Regions from separate parts of the Homo sapiens genome. Here all the other regions are linked to region 2. Evidence: fine-mapped expression QTL. A gene starts in region 2. Each other region holds a variant in brackets. All regions are shown on one strand. Distances are from middle to middle. Region 1 overlaps LMOD1 (leiomodin 1). Region 2 holds the start of SHISA4 (shisa family member 4). Region 3 overlaps IPO9 (importin 9).

What was found. PIP is the estimated chance that this variant, and not a neighbour inherited with it, causes the effect.
Region 1: its variant is fine-mapped to the expression of SHISA4 in tibial nerve (GTEx, PIP 0.96).
Region 3: its variant is fine-mapped to the expression of SHISA4 in macrophages (Nedelec 2016, PIP 0.91).

The regions. Positions count from the first base shown.
Region 1 is chr1:201,913,752-201,921,214 of GRCh38, reverse strand. The region is part of intron 1 of LMOD1 (leiomodin 1); the gene reads left to right. Among named protein-coding and RNA genes, the nearest start is that of SHISA4, 29 kb to the right of the region's middle. RefSeq lists an enhancer at 6,506-7,006. The variant TA/A (reference allele first, on the strand shown) is at 3,573.
Region 2 is chr1:201,885,168-201,892,630 of GRCh38, reverse strand. SHISA4 (shisa family member 4) reads right to left here and starts at 3,733. Exons shown (of 5, transcript NM_198149.3): 1 at 3,564-3,733; 2 at 3,015-3,186; 3 at 2,044-2,177; 4 at 1,063-1,230; 5 at 44-831. The coding sequence starts at 3,636. The coding sequence ends at 785. RefSeq lists enhancers at 3,596-3,890, 3,731-4,240.
Region 3 is chr1:201,829,316-201,836,778 of GRCh38, reverse strand. IPO9 (importin 9) reads right to left here. Exons shown (of 24, transcript NM_018085.5): 1 at 7,407-7,463. It overlaps IPO9-AS1 (IPO9 antisense RNA 1), which reads left to right and starts at 7,220. Exons shown (of 3, transcript NR_046696.1): 1 at 7,220-7,463. RefSeq lists an enhancer at 7,323-7,463. The variant AAT/T (reference allele first, on the strand shown) is at 3,550.

The DNA of each region.
Region 1 (7,463 bases), 29 kb before region 2:
CCCAGCCCAGATCTTTATTAATGCCAACCTGTTAGGCATTTAAATTTTGTCATGGCCAAAACAGTTGATCATCTCAAGTGCCACCCTCATCTCCCCGCTCCATATTCCCCGCCATGGTTATAAGCATCACTCTCTAACCAGGCAACCAAACTGGAAATCAGGGAGTCATCCTCCACTTCTCCTCGGCATTGTCCACTTCACTGAATCTTATTAACTGTACCCTAGAAATGTCCATGGAATGCATCTCCACTCCTCTGTGTTCACTGCTCAGCCTGGTCCAAGATCTCATCATTTCCTTTCTTTTTTTCTCTTCTTTCTTACTTTTTTATTTATTTATTTATTTTTATTTTTAGAAACAGGGTCACACTATGTTGCCCAGGCTGGTCTCAAACTCCTGGGCTCAAGCAAGCCTCCTGCCTTGGCTTCCCAAAGTGCTGAGATTACAGGCGTGAGCCACCGCGCCCAGCCTCCCACCCCCTATTCTATATTCGCTGGGTCCTGCACTGTGTAGAGGCCACTTGGCCTCCTTGATTTAATGGCTTGACATCCTTGTTTGCTCCCTGTCTTCCCAGTAGGTCTTGGCTTTTCTTTCTCCCTTCCAGTAGAATATCCAGACCCACCTCCTAATTGTCCTTGAGCTTAAAGACTCAGCTTACTCCTCAGCTATTTCTCAACTATGATTGACTTCCTCAGCAAGCAAGTGGAATTCTGGTCTCTGTGGCCTTGGCATAGGAAAAACCGGTGTCTCCAAGGGCCTCAGCTGCTAAAAGGGAGCTGCATTTAGGAGTTGTATTGACCCTGTAGCATGATGTCTTTCCAGAACAATTCACAAGGCCTGGGAAAGTATGTCATTTTACTGGGGTAGTAATCCCCAGTCAGAGAGTCAATGGTGGGTGGGAGGCTGAGGCGGGCGGATCGTCTGAGGTCAGGAGTTCAAGACCAGCCTGGCCAACATGGAGAAACCCTGTCTCTGCTAAAAATACAAAAATTAACCAGGCGTGGTGGTGGGTGCCTGTAATCCCAGCTACTTGGGAGGCTGAGGCAGGAGAATCACTTGAACCCCGGAGGTTGAGGTTGCAGTGAGCCAAGATCATGCCATTGCACCCCAGCTGCCTGGGTGACAAGAACAAAACTTGGTCTCAAAAAAAAAAAAAAAAAAAAAAAAAAAAGAGAGAGAGCCAGTGGCGGGTGGAGATGGCATTGAAGCCAATATATTCCTTCTACTCTTTGAAGTCCTGGGCTCTTCTGGAGACTTTAGGAAGACACTGAAAAAGGCTGCTTACAATAGTTTAGTGGCCAGGATGGAGAGATGTGGACTGGAAGGTGATGCAGGTGGATGCTGATTGGTGGCTCCCTGGAGGCCTGTAGTAGGATACCAGAGAGTTCTGCCCTGGAGTCTGCCCTGGTTAGTGGACAAAAAGATCCAGAAGGCACATGTACCACACTGGCAGATTATCTGAAGCTGAGAGTCACAGTGAGCTTTTAAACAGCAGAACCAGGATTTAGAAAATTCTAGTCAGGCTGGAATGGCAGGCTTAGTCTAACAGATGAACTTTTCTAGCCCACAGAAAAGCAGCCTCAGGGAGAGGACCCAATACCTACAGAGCACTCACATAGAAGAGAAGGGGTCACCTTGCTTTATACAGTCCCTGGGAATAACAGGACCAAATGGGCTTTCTGACACAGAGTCAGGTTAAAAAAGAAGAAAAGGGGCCAGGCGTGGTGGCTCATGCCTGTAATCCCAGCACTTTGGGAGGCCAAGGCAGGCAGATCACCTGAGGTCAGGAGTTTGAGACCAGCCTGGCCAACATGGTGAAACCCCGTCTCTACTAAAAATACAAAATCAGCCGGGCATGGTGGTGGGCACCTGTAATCCCAGCTACTTGGGAGGCTGAGGCAGGAAAATTGCTTGAACCCAGGAGGCGGAGGTTGCAGTGAGTACCACTGCACTCCAGCCTGGGTGAAGGACTGAGGCTCTGACCCCCCAAAAAAAAAAAAGTTTCTGTCTTTTAGAGATACACACTGAGGCCAGGCATGGTGGCTCACACCTGTAATCCCAGCAAAAGTGAGGCCAAGGCGGGAGGATTGCTTGAGGCCAGGAGTTTGAGACCAGCCTGAGCAACATAGCAAGACCCCAGATCTACAAAAATAAAAGTTAGCCAGGCATGGTGGCACATGCCTGTAGTCCTAGATACTCGGAAAGCTGAGGCAGGAGGATCACTTGAGCCCAGGAGTTTGAGGTTATAGTGAGCTATGATCATACCACTACACTCCAGCCTGGGTGACAGAGTGAGACCCTGTCCCTAAAAAAGAAATAGAGTACACACTGAAATATGTATGCATGAAATGATACACCTGGAATTTGCTTTCAAATAATGTGAGATTGTGACAAAAATGGGTGGGCATCAGATGAAACAAGATTGGCCATATGTAGAGAATCGCTGAAGCTGGGCAATGGGTACCTTGAGGTTCATTGTGCTGTTCTCTCTAGTTTGTTGTACAGTCGAACTTTTCCACATATAAAGTTAAAAAGAAGGAGGAGGAACAAAAGAAGAAGTGTTAGCCAGGCAGAGAAGAAAGCGAGAGGACATCCTGTGTGGCAGGAGCAGCATGCATAGGCAACAAGACCCAAGAGAGCCCAGCATGGGGTAGGGCAGCAAGACCCAAGAGAGCCCAGCGTGGCTGTTCCTCACTGTAACCAGAGTGCAGGCAGGAAGGGGAGGGCGCACAGAGGCAGGCACAGGCCAGGTCACGGAGGGCTTTGTTGCCATGCTACAAAGTCTGCACTTCATCCTGAAAGCATGGGAGCCATGGATCAGAATCACATTTTGAAAGGTCTTTCTGGAGACAGAGTGCACTCAAAGAGAAGGAAGACAGGAGGCAGGGGGTTCAGTGGGGAGGCAAGAGATGATGGAGGCCGCAAACACAGCAATGGTGAGGGGATGTGAGGAAGCTAATCTCAGCTATGTTAGGAAGGTGGGATGAAGGGAACGTGGTGAGGGAAAAAGGAAGCGTCAAGGCTGATGTCCCAGTGTCTGTGGGGTGGGAGAGCCATTCCTGAAGAGGGAGAAGGCGGGAAGACAGAGAGCTGCACCATCCCTGATCCCTGGCCTCTTAGGCCTAGGACTGGCTACAGAATTTGCAGGGCTTAGCGCAAAATGAAAATGTGCTCAAGAATTACTAAAACTTTCAAGACGATGACAGCAGAGAATTAAACCAAGCGTAGGGCCCTCTGAGCATGGGGCCCTGGAGCACTGCAGAGGTCAGACACCATAAAGCTGCTCCTGCTTTAGCCAATGTACCCTTTTCTGTTTAGAAGGAACAGGAGAGGGGCTGTATGAAAGCCAGGCCTCCTGCTCACAGCCCCAGGCAGTAAAAGAACAGTATGTTCCTTCTGCCACCCTCCGGGACCTAAGTGGGACCCAGAAGCCTGGGACAAATAGCTTGCATTTGTGTAGATCTTTACAACATTTCCCAGACTTGCTTGGGTTTTCCTTGGTGCTGGGATAAAATGAAGAAGCAGAAAGTACTAGCCAGGCACTTCAGAGAGCAGAGTGCTACAGTGACTTGTT[TA/A]TCTCCCCAAAGAGATTTCCCGGTTTCTCCAAAAATGGGGTTTGCTACAAGCTTCCCAGTATGAGTCACCAGACCAGTTGGCAAAGCATTTAGTTCTGCTGAGAGCAATGGAGTTGACCCTTCATTGGCCGAGAAGATCTGCCACAAGAACCTTCATCCCCCTAGTGATGGGTTCTGCATAACCCCCAGGCAGAAGCCAGAATGGCGCTGACTGTGAAGTCTTAGCTATTGCAGGCTGTGTTGCATGCCCTCACCTCAAAACGCCTCTGTCTTTCTCTACTTGCAGTGAATGCAGAAGCCTTGGTGGTAGGGGTAAGGGCCTAGGTGAAACACAGACACCGCTCACCGTGCCTTCCTTTCTGGTGCCTCTTGATGGCTCTTGGCAGGCTTTTGAGGTCAGGCCACCTTCCCCCATTTACCATCCCTTTCACTAGAAACCCTGGTCCTTAAAGACTCAAGGCAGGCAAGAACCCTCCCAGCCTTGGCAGAGTTTGGTGACACATGCAGTGTAAGTGCCCAGCCACCCACATCTGCACATTATCCTTGTCTTTTCCAGAAGGTTTCTTTGCTCCCCTTCCCTACAAAGACAGAGCAGGCCCTGAGATGGTGGCGTTCACTCCTCTTGTAAAGCCTGGTCTCCCGCAGGACTGCATCAGAAAATGCCCTTTTTTTCCCAGGTTCACAAACCGCTGCCCTTTTCTTGGCTGCCATTGCGCCACTCCGACCCCTGGAGATCATCTTGGGAGGTAAAAATGAATCATGGCGTTTCTGTTTATGCTGGAGCTGGAGGCAGTGCCTGAGACCCTTTGGCCCTCTGCTCAGCACTGATGTTTATCACCGGGGCTGATGTGTAATTGCTGGAACAGAGCCAGGCGAAGGTCAGGCTGCGAGGCAGGTCCTGGGCACAGCACAGCCGGGCTGAAGACTGAGCACAGTGACGGGGAATCCCCTCCCTCCCACCTCTGGCCCCATCCATCCCTCCTCCCCACACCACGGCCTGATGCCTCTTGGTTTTTAATTTTGTTTTGTTTTTGCTGTGAAACTCAGTTATTTAAAGACAATTTTGTTTCTTTTTCATAAAACAGCTTTTGTTGGTTTTTGTTTTGTTTTGTTTTGTTTTGTTTTTTGAGACAGGGTCTCTCTCTGTTGCTCAGGCTGGAGTGCAGTGGCATGATCACGGCTCACTGCAACCTCGACCTCCCTTGGCTCAGGTGATCCTCTCACCTCAGCCTCCCAGGTAGCTAGGGCTACAAGCACATGCCACCACGCCTGGCTAATGTTTGTATTTTTTGTAGAGATGGAGTTTCACCATGTTGCCCAGGACGGTCTTGAACTCCTGGGCTCCAGCTTCCCCTCACCCTGACCTTCCAAAGTCCTGGAATAGATGTGCCTTTGTTGTATTTTTCTGATCATAAAAGTAGTTCAAGCCAGGTGTGGTGGCTCACACCGTAATCTCAGCACTCCGAGAGGCCAAGGTGTGTGGATCGCTTGAGCCCAGAAGTTTAAGACCAGCCTGGGCAACATGGCGAAACCCCGTCTCTACAAAAAATACAAAAATCCGCTGGGTGTGGTGGTGCATGCCTGTAGTAGCAGCTACCTAGGAGGCTGAGGTGGGAGGATCACAAGCTGGAGGAAGTCAAGGCTGCAGTGAGCCGTGTCACACCACTGCACTGCAGCCCAGAGGAGAGAATGAGACCTTGTATCAAAAAAAAAAAGTTCAGACATTAGACACTGAAAGGCTTCGGATGGGTCTGGCCTTCAGCAAGGTCCCTGGGGCTGCCGTGCAAGGATCGCCCTGGAGGAGGTCAGCGAAACCGAGAGGAGGTTGTTGCTATAACCCCATGAGAGGTGATAGTGGCCTGGACCAAGGGAACATCTGTGAGGATGGAGGAGAGGGATTGATCTGAGTGGGGTTCAGGCTGTAGTATCTGTGTGCAGGTAACGAGGGAGTATATAATAGGTCGATTTCCCAGCCTTCCCCCAAAATCACTTGGGCTACTGGTAGGGAAGGGTGAGTGAGTGCAGAGCGGGGTGCAGAGGGGTCCACGTTGCCTCCCCACAGATCCCTCCTTTCCTCTTCCCAGCCGGGTTCTGATTGGAGTCACTGGGTGTTTAGAGGAGCCACTTGCCCAGATAGGGAATAGTGCAGGGGTCGGCAAGGCAGTGGGGGAAGATAAGGAGTCCAGTTTTTGAGGTACTTTGGGGCACACAAACCAAGATATTCATTAGACGGTACTACCTTCCTAGTAGTGTCTGGCCCAGAGATCCAGCTTTGAGAGACATCAGTACGTAGAATGCAGCTGATGCCATCAGAATGGATGAGATAATCCGGTGAGAGGCTCTAAAGGTGAAAACAAAGGAGGCCTAAAATAAGACCTTGCCAACACCCACATGTCTCAAGGAAGAGGGTCCTTGAAGGAGGCCTAAAGGAGCTATCAGAGAGCTAGGAGGAAAGCCATGAAGGCTGCGGTGGAAACCGATGGGGAAGCGTTTTGAAGGAAGGACCTGGCCAATAGCGCCAGATGCTTCCCACGCAGTTTGAGCAATATATGAAATAAAAGATAAATCCGACTTAGTGACAGGAGGGTCAGAAGTGATCTGGATGAAACTAATTTCCATGGAATGTTGGGGGTGAGGCAAGAGTGTGTTGGATTGAGGAATGAATACGGATCAAAAAGTAGAGCTCTTTGAGGAAGTTTGGGTATACGGGAAGGCTGGCGCTACAGCTGGAAGGGACTGTGGACAGAAGGAGGATCTGATTAACCGGGAGAGATGGGCAGGTTTAAAGGGTGGTGGGAAGGGGCCAGGAAAGAGGGAGAGGCTAAGGCTGTGGAAGAGGGTGCGGGAGTGCAATGTGGGGAGGAGGGGTGGGCACCAGAGTGCGTGGGGAGGGGTGAGCCTGGGCAGGAGGAGAGGGAAGGTGAAAGATGAGCCTGGAGGTGAGTTTGTAGAAGAGGTGGCAGGAAGTTGGAGAATTGCCATGGGTTGTTTCCTCTGTCTGCCTGGGAAGAAATTAGAGGAGATTGTCTGCCAAGAATAGGGGTGGAGTGGGACGAGAGATACTAAGAGAAGGGAGAAGAATTCGGATAGATGCTATGAAGAACCAGGAGAGAGCTAGACCCATAATGACAGTTACCTTTTATTGAAAGCTTCCTGTGCAGCCACAGGAAGTGGATGTGTTATCCACTCACCTCAATGAAGCCTTAATACCGCCCCGTACCAGATGTGATCCCCGTTTTACAGATGAGGAAGGCAAATTAACCTGTCCATGTTGACATAAGAGCAAAGTGTGGAACCCTGGCCTTCTGACTCTCAAGCTGGTCCTCAGCATTGGCGCCACTTGTGAGTGTTAGGGTTCACAGGGGCTGCAGACAGTGGACGGCACCACGTGGGGTGTGGGCTACTCTCCCCAGATAGCCCAGCACCTGGGAGGAGGAGCCACACAGGCCTGCAGTCAGTGCTTTGGCTGTAGGGTTGGGGCTTTGGCTGGCACGTGTGACTGGGGTTGAGGATACTGGCAAGGTGATGACTGACGTGCTGGATAGAACAAGAGGTGAAGCAGTCAAGGTGGGTGGTGCAGAGAAGTCAGAATTTGGGTCTCATGGCCAGCGGTTCCACTTTTGGGTCCATCTACACTCCCAAAGAGTTGAAAGCAAGGACCCACACAGATATGTTCATAGCAGCATTATTCACAATAGCCAAAAACAGCCCAAGTGTCTATCAATGGATGAATAGATAAACAAGCTACATAAATTATACATTTTATGTATAATTTACATAAAATGCTAAAATTATCAAGGTATATACATACAATGGAATACTATTCAGCCTTAAACAGGAAGGAAACTCTGAATTCAAATTTTGGAGGTGTCCCCATTTCACAGGCAGCA
Region 2 (7,463 bases):
GTACCTGAATGGGAACTGCCTTTGTACAGTTAGCAGTGCCTCAGCTGTTGTAGAGCTGTTGATCCCTAGCAGGGAATATCTGTAGTGCAAACGAGCATCTCTTCAGAGCTGTGGCAAAATTCACCTCATTGTCTTTAGGAAGCCTTTAGGAAGCCAGGAACAGTCCGCCTTGGTCTGCTTGTGGATGGGGGTGAGGATGGTGCTGTGCTCCGATGCTGGTGCTGGCCCTCCCCTACTTTTGGAATATGGAGTGGGCAACAGTCTGGGCCCAGCTGAAGGCGGTGTTCCTGGAAGGTGTGGATGGGTCCAATGATGCGACTGATATGAGTTATGTCTTTACAGCTTTAATCTAGCAGGCCAGAGATGTGGCCAGTGGGGCAGCCAGAGAGGAGGGCTACTGCCAGCTGCTGACGGAACCTCCTCCCTCCCCCCACCCCAGCCCAGAGGGGACAAACAGTAGGGCCCCAGCCTTCCTGGCTGGGATCTTGGGAGCAGAGGGACTATTTGAAAACAGGCACTGTGACCCAGGCTGTCATCTCCCTCCCTTGCCCCCAGTAAAAATAGCCCATAATTCCAAGCCCTCCCCCCAACCCCTCATAGTTCTAGTTCAGCTCCTGTTCCACTTCCCTGGGGCTCTGTCCCCAGTAGGGCCCAGGGCTTGGCTTGGTCTGGGGCCTGGTGGCTGGAGGACTCCTGCCACCCCCAGGACCAGATGCAGGTACAGGATGAGGGCATCTCCCAAGGTTGGCATCACTGAAGGGGCAGCAGAGACATGGCTGGTTCCTCAGGCTCCCGGGTAAGAGGGCTGTGGTGGCATATAGGGAGGAGGAGCTGAAAGCCAAAGAGACAGGATGAGGGTGAGTGGTGGCATAGGTGGACGAAAAGTAACACCCCTGCCCCCGGGGCAGACAGGACCCATAGGGAAGAGTGGGCCTGGAGGTTTCGGGCTAGAGGTGGAGGAAGTCTGGGAGAGGGAATCTGAGAATGAGAGAGGCACAGGGGAGGTCGCAGGGCAAGGGGTGGGGGAAGGCAGCAGCAAGGGGCTCCAGATTGCTTACTTACCTGCAGGGTTGTAGACTGGGGGCCCAGCTGGGTAGAGTGGATATTGGGGAGCAGGACCACTAGGTGGGTATATGAAGCCAGGCTGTGGGGGTGCAGGGCCAGCTTTGGGGTCCTGGGGGTATGGGTATACTGGCTGCACTGGGATGCCTGTCATTGGAATCTCCTGGCCTAGATGGGGGAGAAGGATCAGCATTCAGAGACCCATCTCCTATGGGAAGCCTCCTCCTCCTGCCCAGGAAACCAAGGTAAGCACCCTGGTGCTGGCCTCTGGCAAGCTCCAGGCTGGCCATCTTTGCCTCCCACACCCTGCTTGGCAGAGTTAAGCAGGGAGCTGTGCACGTGGCCCCAGCTGGTCAATCTGTGTTGAGCAAGTTTGCTCCCCTCAGCAGGTTTCAGAGACCTCATGAACCAGGGAGCACAGCCCAGGGAATATCTCACTTGGGCAAGAAGGGGACAGCTCAGGGCTGGTATCCTGTAATCCAGCAGAGCTGCCACTAAGAGGGTCTTCTCCTAGCCCTTCCCTCCCACACTGATCTCCCGTATGGCATCACTGTCCCCATGTCCATCAGGTTGTGGCATATGTGCATCACATGCCAACACTCAGGCACATATTTTGCCATCCACTGGAGCACACTCAATTAATGTTCATCACTACAGACCTGACCCCGTGTACTTACTAAGAGTCATATGTATGCATACACCCACTGCACCCACTATTGTTGACAGACTGCACTCCTGTACACATTTGAATCTTCATGTGTATGCACAGAAATGCACACAAAGTCTGATGTTCCATATATCCCAGGCACATTCTAATATTCACGGGTTTACAAGCATTTTTCTGGGTTTTCATGCTGGCAGGTGTGTGTATACAGAAGCACATACTACTACAGAATTTACCCAATCCATGAACTCTCTGCTGCCCATTATTGGACTTAGCCCAGCCCATCTGAGGCCCTTCTTGCCCAGTACTGGGTGTACCTTCAAATGGGCTCTGGAGCTGCTGGCGCCGGCGGTACAGGTAGCAACAGGAACAGAGGAAGCAGCAGATGGTGGTGGCAACCACAGCAACAAAGAGGATCACAGCTGAGGCGATGCCTGCTATGGTCTTGGGGCTTTAGACAAAGAACAGGTCCTCTCACCTTCCAACACTCATAGGACGGAGTCCTCATTATGCTGGCTCCAACTCCTGGCCAGCAGGGGGGCCATGGCATGCTGAGATTTGGGGTTCCTTGTGGGGCTCTGCCCAGTCCCTGTGAAGGAGATCTTAGAGGACCTCCACTTCCCAGAAGGCTATGCTGCCTGGCTGGCTAGTGTGAAGCATACGGGGATTTGCAGTGCGCCCCCAACCATTGCTTTTATATCTACAACTTAAATGATTAGACATACAGCATAACACTGAAAGGAGCCTTAGAAATAATCTAGAGCCATTTTTTCCAAACCCCGCTTCAATCAGAAGTCTCTATATCTATTTTATATATGATATATTAAAAAAAAGTTTGACAACCACTAATTTGGCAAGCAATGACCCATAGAAGGCAAGTGTCTTCTCCAAGATCACACAGCTAGTAAGAAGTGGACCTGGGAATCAAACCCAAGTCTCCTGCCTTTGTGCCAGAGCTTCTTCCACAAAGCTACACTGTCGTCCGGGTGTTAACCTTGAACCCTCCCTCCCCATGACCTGGCAGGACCAAAGGGAGGGCTCCAGAAAGAACCTGGAAACCCCGGGCCCAGTCAAAGCCTATGAAGGTAACTAACATGCCTTTTCTGGAACTCCCAGGCACCAGCACCTAAGCACCTAGCTCTGCCGCCAGGCTTGAGTCCTGGTGACTCTATTCAGCTAAGAATGTGGAGGTCGACAACGGAGGAGGCAGGAGTCCGGGAGGGAGGAAGAGGAGGCCTCTGGAGAAAAGGATAGAGGAGGTGGTGAGGGTGAGGAGGCAGGAACCCACCTGAAGGCCAGGCAGTGCTTCTGCTGCCTCTCGGTGATAAGCAAGGTCAGGTCCCTGCAGCAGTACCGATGGTAGCAGGTCCCGCAGCAGAAGGTGAAGAACTCGCAGTTAAACCCCGGATGCCAGGAGCCATTCCGGTCCAGGTACCACAGGCAGTCCTCGCCGGCCAGCACTGCGGGCAGGGATTGGGGGTGCCCAGTGGCCACCAGGCCAGTTCATCCCCAGCCGCGCTCGGCCCCACTCCCCCGGCGGTCCCCAGCCTGACGGCTCCCGAACACTGAGGGTTGCCCCTTGTCTCCACCCTGAGGGTCTCAGCCCCAGAGCCCCCGAGGCCTCTGCCTGAAGCTGACCCTGCACCCCGGGATCAGCCTCCCATGGCCCAGCATCCTGGAGCTCCCTCTTCCCGCTTCTTGAGGACCCAGCAACACCCAAGGCTCCCGTGGCAGCCGGAGGGTCTCGGAGAAGCCCCGAGCCCAAGCCCCTCGGATCGGTCCCTCCCCTTCCTCCGCCCCCATCCCACTCCTGCCGCATCTCTCCCCATCCCCTTACCCAGGGGAGCCCCCAGCACCAACAGAGCGATTGCGGTGAGCGGCGCGGCCCGGCGGAGCCCCGCGGGTGGCATGGTGGGGGCTGGGCGCGGCCGGGGTCGGGCCTCCCAGAGAAGGGACCGCAGGACCAAGCCGGCCAGCTGGAGCTGCGGCGGGGCCCAGCCCGCGGCCAGGCTCGGGCTCCTCTTCCGCCTCCTCTGGGGGTGGGACTAAGCGCCCCGCCCGCGCTAACCCAGCCGGCGCGGCTCCGCGCAGCGCCCAGGAGTCCACCCACCAGCGACGCCCACCTAGCCTCTGGAGCTGGGTGCCCCTCACCCAGCAGAGCACTGCCCTGCTCCCCCTGTCCCCGGCTCCGCGGTGGTTCCTCCCATCCGAGCCACCATGGGCACTGCGGGCAGTTGGGCACTGCGGCCAGGGAAGCCTGGCTGTGTCCTGGACCCGCCCCCGGCCTGGGCCCAATCACTATGCTGGACTCCAGAAGCCCTGATCCTGGTGCCACCTCCGAATGCCCAGACACATGGGCCAACCCTGGAGGAGCAGGGCTGGACCTTCACTTGTGGGGGACCTCCTCTGCCGCGTCCAGCCTGGGACATCCTGTCGGGGGCGGAGAGGGAAAGAGGCTGGATGTCACCCCGCCCCCATTCCCAGAACACAAGCACTCATTGAGAGGCATTCAGAGTGGCTTTGTCCCCAGCGGTGCCCACAGGCCTGAACCCTGCCAGCTGCACTGGCTCCCTACGATGGACCCTTCCCCCTTCAAGTGGACAGAGCTGGCATGCACCAGCCCATGGCCTCACTAGCAGGGAAGGCAGGCTGCTGGGGCCACCTGGGGCCCATCCAGTTAAACACTCTTCACAGTGAAAGCCCTTCACAGAGCAAGCCTGTACTGCAATAGCCACCGGAGCATAGGGAGGGCAACAGTTAATTTCAGGTGGGCAACAGTTAATTCCAGGTGGAGACAGTGTTTTAGGATGGGAGAGGTCAGTCTTCACAGGTTTATACTGAGTGCCAGTGACTATGCCCCATGCTACATGAGGTACCCTCCGAGGAACTGCAAATTAAGCCAGGGAGATCATCAAAAGCCTACCTTAATCCCCTGCCATGTACACCCTTTCACACACTTCTGGGCTTCCACATCTACCTCACTGGAATCTTTCCACAACTCCATGAACTAAGCAAGGTTCATCAGTGTTATCAATCGCATTTCACAGACTGAGAAACTAGGACTCATGGAGGTTAAAGAACTTGTTCAAGGTAATACAGCCAGTAAATGGTAGAGGCATCAGGAAGACCCAAATCTAAATCAGGGTTGATCCCCAGCCGCAACAGCAGACAGTGTAGACAGTGAGTATTTCTTGTGTTCTGGGGTGAGAGAATCAGGACAGGTCCATGGAAGGCCCAGTAGAATCTTAGTAGGTTAGGGAAGGACAGCCGAAAGAGGAGCTACCCCATCCTGGGCCCCTGTGGGTGCTGGCACACCTACCCAAGAGAGCTGGAATAGGAGAGGATAGGCTCCTGCCCCAGAAAGTTGCTGGTAGCCTGATGGGCAAGAGTATGTCCTCACGCAGGACACAGTCATAAATGCAGCAGCAGGGACAAAGAGAAACGCCTCTGAATCCAGCACCACCTACTCAGTGTGCCCATTGCCATCCATCTCCTCTTTCCTACACTAAAAGCTCCATGACTGCAGGGACCACGTGGCTGTGTTCAATGTGGCCATCCAGCCCTAGCCATCAGTGTTGTCATTGTTGGTTGAATCATCTTCAGATAAGGGACTGTCTTTCCTGCCCAGAGCTGAATCTCCCATGTGTACCCTTGACCCCTGCTGATTTGTCTCTTCATTATCCCATCTCTTTAGTGTCTTTAGCTTCTCACACCTTACCAGCTTCTTTTCCCTAGGAAATCTCAAGTCTCTCCTATTTAAAGCAAAGCAAAGCAAAGCAAACCAAACCAAACCACATCCTTCCTAAAACTCATCCCTCTCTAGCTACTTTCCTGCTTTTTTCTCCAACTAGCCTTCCTCAAAGTGTATACCCCTAGTTGACACGCCCTCCTCAAAGTGTATACCCCTAGTTGACACTTCCAGCTTGCAATGACACCTAGCACGCACCAACATCATCAGTGATTTTCTAATTGCAAAATTCTAAGAATGTGTTTCAGTTCATGGGATGGGAGGTGACTAGACTAGGACAGAGAGTGAAGAGAGGGGGCTGTGGGCCAACCAGAGGGGAGAACTGGCTGCACTGGGAGAACTGGCACTTCTTACCTTGACAAGGGATGCTGGAGCTCGGAGATGGAGAGCTGGGGCTAGCTTATGTCGCCATAATGAACCTGGGTCTTGAAAGAGTCTGTAGATTGGCCAGGAGTGAGGAGGGGCTTGGGTGGGAGGACTGGGGGCCCTGGAAGAAGTTGTCTAAATCTTCAGGCCTGGAAGGGCTTCACTACACCTTCTCTAGGTAAGGGCAGGCAGGAATACCCCCCGCTCACCAAGCTGGTCTCTTAATCCCCAGCAAGGGAAAGAAACGCTTTCCTGGAAAAGAGGAGGCAGAGTAATTTGTGATCAGATGAGACAAAACATAGGCTTTGCCAGTAGGAGGTTCTCCTCAGGGTGTCTGGAATATGATGGTAATGATACCACCAGCAGCGAACATTGCTGATGAGCTCATCCCATTGTACAGATGAGGAAACTGAAGTTGGAAGAACTTCAATTCCCCCAGCTCACACTGCTGGGATTTGCAGTTGGACTTTTGTGGCTTCAAAGCCCAGGCCCTTCAGCTTCACCACCTGCTTCTCTTTAAACAAGTCTAAAGGGCCAGGCACGGTGGCTCACGCTTGTAATCCCAACACTTTGGGAGGCCAAGGCAGGCAGATCACCTGAGGTCGGGAGTTGGAGACCAGCCTGATCAACATGTAGAAACCCCGTCTCTACTAAAAATACAAAATTAGCTGGGTGTGGTGGCACATGACTGTAATCCTAGCTGCTCGGGAGGCTGAGGCAGGAGAATCACTTGAACCCGGGAGGCTTGAACCCGGGAATCGCCATTGCATTCCAGCCTGGGCAACAAGAGCGAAACTCCGTCTCAAACAAACAAAAAAACAAGTCTAAAATGTTCAGTGCTATGCCTGGCATAAAAAGCATGTATTCAGGGAAACTTTGATGCCCAGCCCTTATCTCTAGCAGGCCTCTGCATGTGGTGAGAAGGTAGCCAGGGATATCTGAAGTGGGGAAAGGCAGGAGGAGGGGAAGGGCTGGGACCCTGCCTGTGACCCAGTTTGGGCTTGGCTAGGGGCTGTGGTAGGAGTGCTCTGCTGAGTCACCTCACTCCTGGGCTGAATGACCAGCCCAGGGCTCCTCCCAACCTCTTCCATGCTCCTCTATCAGAGCAGACTAACACAGGCATTCCTGAGGCCTTCCTTACTTTCCTGGGCCATGAGCCCTGGAGGCTCCATCCCACCCTGGTCCTACCCCACCCATGCTGTTTGGCCGTGGAGGCTCCTGCCTCCACTTTTGTCTGGCCAGTGGTTTGTTGAACCATTCCAAGATAAGGGAAACTCCATTCCTTTCCTAATTCCTGCCTCTGGTCAGTCAGTGCTCTCCAGGAATGCACTCTACATTACTCTGCCCTCCTTTTTTCTATTCCTCCTTGCCCAGCCTCTGGCAACCCAACTCCTGCAGACAGGTAATTATACATTCCCCCACTCCATAGGACCCTGAGTTCTTTACTCTGATTTAATGTCAGATCCTTCCTGGAGGGTCTTGGACACATTAATTCTCCTTGCAGTCCACAGCTAGGAAGAGTAAGGCCTAGGACAGCACCAGGACTTGGCCAAGTCTCATGGCTTAGTTGGGGAACCAGGTCTTTTGGCTCTCACTGCCCCGGAATAAACAAACATCTCTCTT
Region 3 (7,463 bases), 56 kb after region 2:
TTTGCATTAGGTTATAGGGGGATGAAAGAGGGAAAATACAAAATTCTTTTACTTAACCCAATTTATTCTGTCTAGACCACATACCTACTAGAAATACAAGGATATCACTCACCATTTAAGAGTGTCATACCCATAATACTTTAGTTTACTTAAAAGCTATATAAATAATTGTTTCCAAGGAGTATGATGTTGATGGTAAACTCCGTGCTATAAAACCGATGCAAAATTAGCTGGGTGTGGTGATGCACACCTGTAGTCCCAGCTACTAAGGAGGCTAACATGGAAGGATCACTTGAGCCCAGGAGTTTGAGGCTGCAGTGAGCTATGATCACACCACTGCACTCCAGCCTGGATGACAGAGCAAGACCTTGTCTCAATTAAAAAACAAACTAAGAAACAAACTAATGCAAAGAAGGAAAAGCCAGAAAATAATTCTAAAGCTCTTGGCCTTATTTTAAATCTGATCAACACATTTGCTCCTATCCATTGGTTTCTGTTACGTAGTAAAACCCTACTTACAGATTTTTCACTTAACAGAGATACAATATTTTTTGAAATACAACTAAGTATATTTGTTAAAAAAAAAGTACGTGTGTGTGTGTTGGGGGACTTCTGGTTTTACTGATTGGTGTCTGTTTTTTTTTTTTTTTTTTTTTTTTGAGATGGAGTCTTGCTCTGTCACCCAGGCTGGAGGGCTGGAGTGCAGTGGTGTGATCTTGGCTCACTGCAAGCTCTGCCTCCCGGGTTCAGGCCATTCTCCTACCTCAGCCTCCAGAATAGCTGGGACTACAGGCGCCCGCCACCACGCCTGGCTAATTTTTTTGTATTTTTAGTAGAGATGGGGTTTCACCATGTTAGCCAGGATGGTCTTGATCTCCTGACCTTGTGATCCGCCCTCCTCGGCCTCCCAAAGTGCTGGGATTACAGGAGTGAGCCACACTGTGCCCGGCCTGGTGTCTTTAACACAATGTCTTTAAAAATATGAGAAAGAATAGCCTAATAACTTACTCTGGGATGATGAAGGCAGGGAAAATATAAGAAACACAGACATAAATATCCGCTTTATTTTGCTTTGCTTGGAAACGACTGTTTAAGATTAAACTAACATTCAATCTATGAAGTTGAGCCAAAGGGCAACACTGCCAAGAGGGCTATATGAAGTTGTTTTCTAAAGCTATTTTTGTTAGGAAATTTAATTTCTCTAGTTCCCTTTCCCATGGTGAAATAAGGACAGTTCATTCTGTTAATCTGGGTTTTCACCCTGACTCTAGATTCTCCTTAATTATACCTTTATTCCTATCCAAAATGGCATCCTTTGACTTCCTAAGAAATCCTCTGCCCTCTTTCATTCTCTAGTCTCATTCTCTTTTAGTCTTTTGCTTCCCTCTCGTTATCCTTGCTCCCCTTTCTCTCTTATCACCCCATATGGCAAAAACATTATCTATCTAAAACTTGGTTTAGAAGGGAAAACCCAAAGGAGAGCATGGAGGATAAAGGATCACTTAAGAAATACATGCTATTGGTCTGAAGGGTCTCCTAGAGAGACAAGACTTGGCAGTACTTTGACAGTCAACTAATAAGAATTGTGAACAGGGATTGTTGGAGAAGGATGCGGTTTTGAGTAGACCCCCTGGACAAGCCCCCTATTTCTCATGGGAGTTGGTAAGCACCACAAAACCACAGCTGAAAGGAAAAAGAAAACTCCACCACTGGCCTTTTTCCGAGCGTGGCCGCCTTCCGCTCGGCTCAGTGCCCGCCACATGCCCAGGAGTGCGTCTGGATCCTTGAGGGGCGCCCTTCGCAGGTGGACAGTGCTTACGCTATACTGCAAAAGAGCCAGAAAAGTGCCCATGAGAACCAGAAAGCAAACTTCCAGCCAGCAGGATCATCTCTCTAGGCATCTAAGATGGGGAAATCAATACAGGTATCTCGGCAGCATCTGAATGCCAGGAAAGGTGAGGGAGAGATAATTTCCCCCCTCCCCTGTTCAACATAATGGTGGTAGAAGGGAAGAAAAATGTATTCTCTGTGACTTATCTACTGGGAACTAGACAAGGCCAAATGATAGGGGAAATGTCATCATTTGTAATAGGCAAAAAAGAAATAAGCAAAGAAGAAAATGTCCTAGGGTCTAAATCTAGTTATGTAAGAAAGTCTGTGCATGCTGGCACGAAGAATTAAAGCTTCTGAATGAAAGCAACCCATTCCACCACTTGGATAATGCCATTCTTAGAGGAAAAGTAGAGAAAGAAGTAGAAAAAGAGGGAAAGAACTTCATTTTAAGATATAAAAAAATAAAGCACGAATACACCAAAAATAAAAGGCTGACATTCTCAAAAGATGGTAATTCTCATGATCTCACCGTAAGTCAGACAAAAACAAAAGAAAAAGAGTTGATGAAGCTGAGTACAGAATATGAGACTTTGACGTAAGAGATCTTCGGTGGTTCATAACCTCTCCAGTCTTTTTAACTACTATGTTTGTAAAGTGCTTAATATGAACCTGCCTATTAAACAAAACAGAATTAGAAAGCATGCTTTAGACTCTTAGCAGTGCAACAAAAAAAAAAAAGAAAAGAAAAGTTTTTTTACTCTAACGAATAAAAAAACTTAAAAAAAATTTTTTTTACCCTATTTAGGTAGAAGTAAATTTCCTACAAACCTGATCAAACTCAAAATCTCAATCCTCCTAAGAAAAATGAAAGGGGCCAGGTGTGGTTGCTCATGCCTATAATCTCAGCACTTTAGGAGGATCACTTGAGGGCAGGAGTTCAAGGCCAGCCTGGTCAACACAGCAAGACCCCATCTCCAGAAAAAAACTAAAAAAATCAGCCAAGTATGGGCATGTGCTTGTAGTCACAGCCACTTGGGAGGCTGAGGTTGGGAGGACTGCGTAAGCCCAGGAGTTAGAAGCTGCAGTAAGCTATGATCACACCACTGCACTCTAGCCTGGGTGACAGAGCAAAACTCTGTATCTTAAAAAAAAGAAAGAAAGAAAAATGAAAGGTTAACAATTATCTGCAGAATACTGTACACCATAATAACTTCCAAACTTTCAAGCAATGTTCTTCTCAATTCAGGATGGGAGTGCTATCTGATGAAGGTGGTTACTGGCATCATCTCCTTATCTAATTAGCCCTGTTAAATAGACTTTAAATATTCAGAGAGGTTTGCTGGGTTTCTTCCAGATTCCAAGTGACTAGCAAAAATAGCAAGCACAGGGGCTCAAGAAAATCATTCCAGCCAGGCGCAGTGGCTCACGCCTGTAATCCTAGCACTTTGGGAGGGCAAGGTGGGTGGATCACCTGAGGTCAGGAGTTCGAGACCAGCCTGGCTAACATGGTGAAACTCCATCTCTACTAAAAATACAAAAATTAGCCTGGCGTGTTGGTACGCGCCTGTAATCCCAGCTACTTGGGAGGCCTAGGCATGAGAATCACTTGAATCTAGGAGGCGGATGTTGCAGTGAGCCGAGATCATGCCAATGCACTCCAGCCTGGGTGACAGAGCGAGACTCTGTCTCAAAAAATAAAATTAAAAAAAAAAAAAA[AAT/T]CATTCCAGGACACCAGGCTGATGAAGTAACCTATCTTATCCTTTTCAGATTGACACGCTACATGAATCAAATGGATCTCTCACATACACACACTTCCTTGGCTTAAGAGAACAGGTGCCCATTCTGGAAAATGTGATAATTAATTATAGGCAATTTATTTATTTATCAGAAAATATCAGCTGGTACACTAAATGATCAGGACTACTCTAGGCTCCAGCAATCTTTATTTTCTAAGATAACTGCTTCTTAAAATCTCATCTATAGTACAATTTGGTCACAGCATGTCAACTTCTCTTGCCTGTCCTTTTAACAGGGAGTTGACAATTGACCTGTGTCCTTTCCCCATAAATTAGATATTCTTCCATTTAATCTTCAAGACAAGGGATCATCACCTGGTAGCCAAGGAAGGTAACAAATGTTTTTGGCAAAGGGAACGGACCAGTTAATCTTAAAGACCATGTGGGATCAGTCTCCTATGTGATGGACTAATAAACAGCTCACAAAGACAGTGTGGTTATTTGAGAGGACAGAGGGAGGACTAGATCTGGTTGTCACCTGATCCTGGGCCCCATGGAACCAAAAAATGATCAAAAGATTACCAGAACACAAATAATAATAGACACCAAATCCCAGATTTCTCATTAACTTCAAGTTTTAAGAGTGTTTCCGGCCTGGCCGGTTGGCTCATGCCTGTAATCTCAGCATTTTGGGAGGCTGAGGTGGGCAGACTGCTTGAGCTCAGGAGTTCAAGATCAGCCTGGGCAACATGGCTAAACTCCGCCTCTGCTAAAAATACAAAAATTAGCCAGGCATGGTGGTGCATGCCTGTAATCCCAACTACTTGGGAGGCTGAGGCACGAGAATTGCTTGAACCTGGGAGGTGGAGGTTGCAGTGAGCTGAGATCATGCCACTGCACTCCAGCCTGGGCCCTGGACCACAGAGTGAGACTCGGTCTCAAAAAAAAAAAAAGTGTTTCCTAGAATCAGAAAACAAGGTTCCTTCTACCAGGGTAAAACTAAAATGTGGGCTGGGTGCAGTGGCTCACGGCTGTAATCCCAGCACTTTGGGAGGCCGAGGCGGGTGGATCACCTGAGGTCAGGAGTTCGAGACAACCTGGCCAACATGGTGAAACCTCGTCTCTACTAAAAATACAAAAATTAGCCAGGCATGGTGGCAGGTGCCTGTAATCCCAGCTACTCGGGAGGCTGAGGCAGGAGAATTGCTTGAACCCAGGAGGCGGAGGTTGCAGTGAGCCGAGATCGCACCACTGCACTCCAGCCTGGGCGACAGACTGAGACTCTGTCTCAAAACAACAACAACAACAACAACAACAACAACAAAAGCAAAAAACACTAAAATGTGAAGCAACACCAAAGAAGTGGAAAGTAGTTTGCAAGAATGGCTCATCTTGCTCTGTAGGGCATTCTAATAGGAGGAACCATGTCCTGCCAGTTTCATCAGGCCAGATAGTTGGCTAAATCCCGGCTGGAAAGCTGGGTTCTATGTTTTCATGTAAAGAAGGGTTGAGGCTGGTAAAGAAGCAGCTACTATATTGCACCATGTTCAGAAAACATCTGAGAGATTCAGACAGAGTTTAAGGTGGGAGGTACTCTGAACCCAATGTCAAAGATAACTTGTTAAAGGCCACAAGAGGAAGAAAGCAGACCGCATCTGAGGGAATGGACCGCCATTCTCCACCTTAAAACAGGTACAGAAGGGGGTAAATCTCTATAGTTTTTTTGATAGACATTAAGGAGCCAGACTACTTAAAAGACACAAGCAGCCTCCAAAGGGTCCGAAGCATTGCACTAAACTCCAGAGACTGATCCAACCCTCTAACCAAATCCAAAACCTGAGTCATATGCTCTATTACTAGATCACCAATATCAGGTCACTGCATCGATGCCTTTCCATACTTTTCATTCTCATAGTCTGCCCAACAGCACATTACCAGTAAGTTATGGGGGTCGGGGGGCAGTCGATCTATTTCTCATCAGTGACTTAGATCAAAATTCTGTACTTCTGAAATTTAATTTTTCACTTAAAGGCTCAAAAAGATGCCAGGTGTGGTGGCTGAGGCCTGTAATCCCAGCACTTTGGGAGGCCTAGGTGGGAGGATCGCTTGAGTCCAAAAGTTTGAGGCTGCAGTGAGCCATGATGGCATCACTGCTCCAAAGTCTACACGATAGAGCGAGACCCAGTCTCAAGAAAAAAAAGATGAATAAAGTGAGGAATCAGAGTTTCAAAAAAGACCTCGAGAACTTTATAATTGACTTTGCCCAGATGAGACCATGGCATTTGGCTAAAGTTGAAAAGATCAGAGCAAAAGTGGAGTTGTTGTAAGACAGTTTAAATACAAGTCAAGGTCCACCTTTCATACAAAGGTGCCAGACATGCATTTGGAGCACCAGGAGCACTGGGTACCACTCAGGGAAGGTTTAGTTAAGATGAATTTGCACCAGACTCTCAAGTTTTATTCAGGTGACAACTTGAATGTGATGAGGTTCCTTTGCTTTGTCACTCTTCCTTCCTCATACTCAAGGGGGACAGACATTAATGTGCATAAACGAATTTTATTTAGAAGCCGCTAAAAATTCCTTTAGATTAGTTTATACATGGTTCTCAAACAGCTTTCTCCTAACCAGTGGTTTCTCCTGTATAGATCTGATATTTTATAAAACAATGACAATTACAAGTGGGCCTTCAAAATGGTCCTTAGCCTGTTAGATCCCAAATCTTAACATATTTCCAACAGAAGAAAATTTGTTTTCAACAGCTCTTTCATACTGTGAAAGAATGTAAACTAAATTTAAGAGAGATTTGTTCTAAATTCTTTTCAATAGAAATACGTCCAGTAGGAGAGCTAACTGAAGGTTTTGAATATGATGGGTGTGTGATGGGACAATTTCCCATATCTCTGATGAAGTATTTAAGTGGTGGTGGAAATATTCCTGAGTTGGGAGATTCTGAGGATTTGGAGTTCCAGTGAAGCTCTGACCAGATATATTTCTTACACAAAGACCAAGAAGATTTCTCCTCCTGTTTCTGGATTAAATTGTTCTTTGTGGTAGCTACACTGGACCCGGTGAAAGGCTCACGCGGCAGGAAATTGATAGAAAATCTCGAACCAATGGTTTATTTTCTTCTCCATCACTTTAAAGCACACAATAGAGGACGGAGACAAAGAATCAAAAACAAAGGATGATCAGTTCCTCCAAACAGAAATGCACAAAGGTATTTAATAAGGGCAAATTATTTTTAAAATAAACGTTAAGTATGGTCAGGACAGTGAAGCAATCGCATATGCATTTAATTTCTGGGAAAACACGAAGAGTACAAACAACTAGCTAGGTTTATAACTCAGAGGCAGAAACTTGTTTGATGACATCTATTAAGCTTTGATAGCCGCCTTTTCGAGGCCCTACCCTTCACCACTCCTACTAATAGCTCCCCCTACTCTTATCCCAGTACAATCCAGCTGGTGAAGAGAACAGCGAAAGACTTTGGTCCTGGACTCAAAAAATATTTCCCCGACCGCGCTACTTCCTCCAACAGCACCAAGTCTAGCTCCATCTCCGTCCCCTGCAGATTCTAGGCTCCATCTATCTTTTCAAGTCTCCACCCTCCCTCCCCCACTCCCAGGCTCCACCTCCCCCGACCCTATCCTTCAGGCGCGCCTCTCCTCTCTCGGACTTTCACAACCACCAGCGACATCAATCTCTCGCTTCCTGCTCCACTTCTCGGCGCCCACATCTCCAACTGGCTCAGGCTCCCCATGTCCCCAGCCGGTACGGAGCTGCGGTCAGCGGATTGTGCGGCTGAGCCATCCTCGTGACGGTCCCGCCTCACTCACCCTCCGTCACCTCCAGCACCTTAATCTGTTCTTCAGCAGCCGCCCGCACCTCCTGTA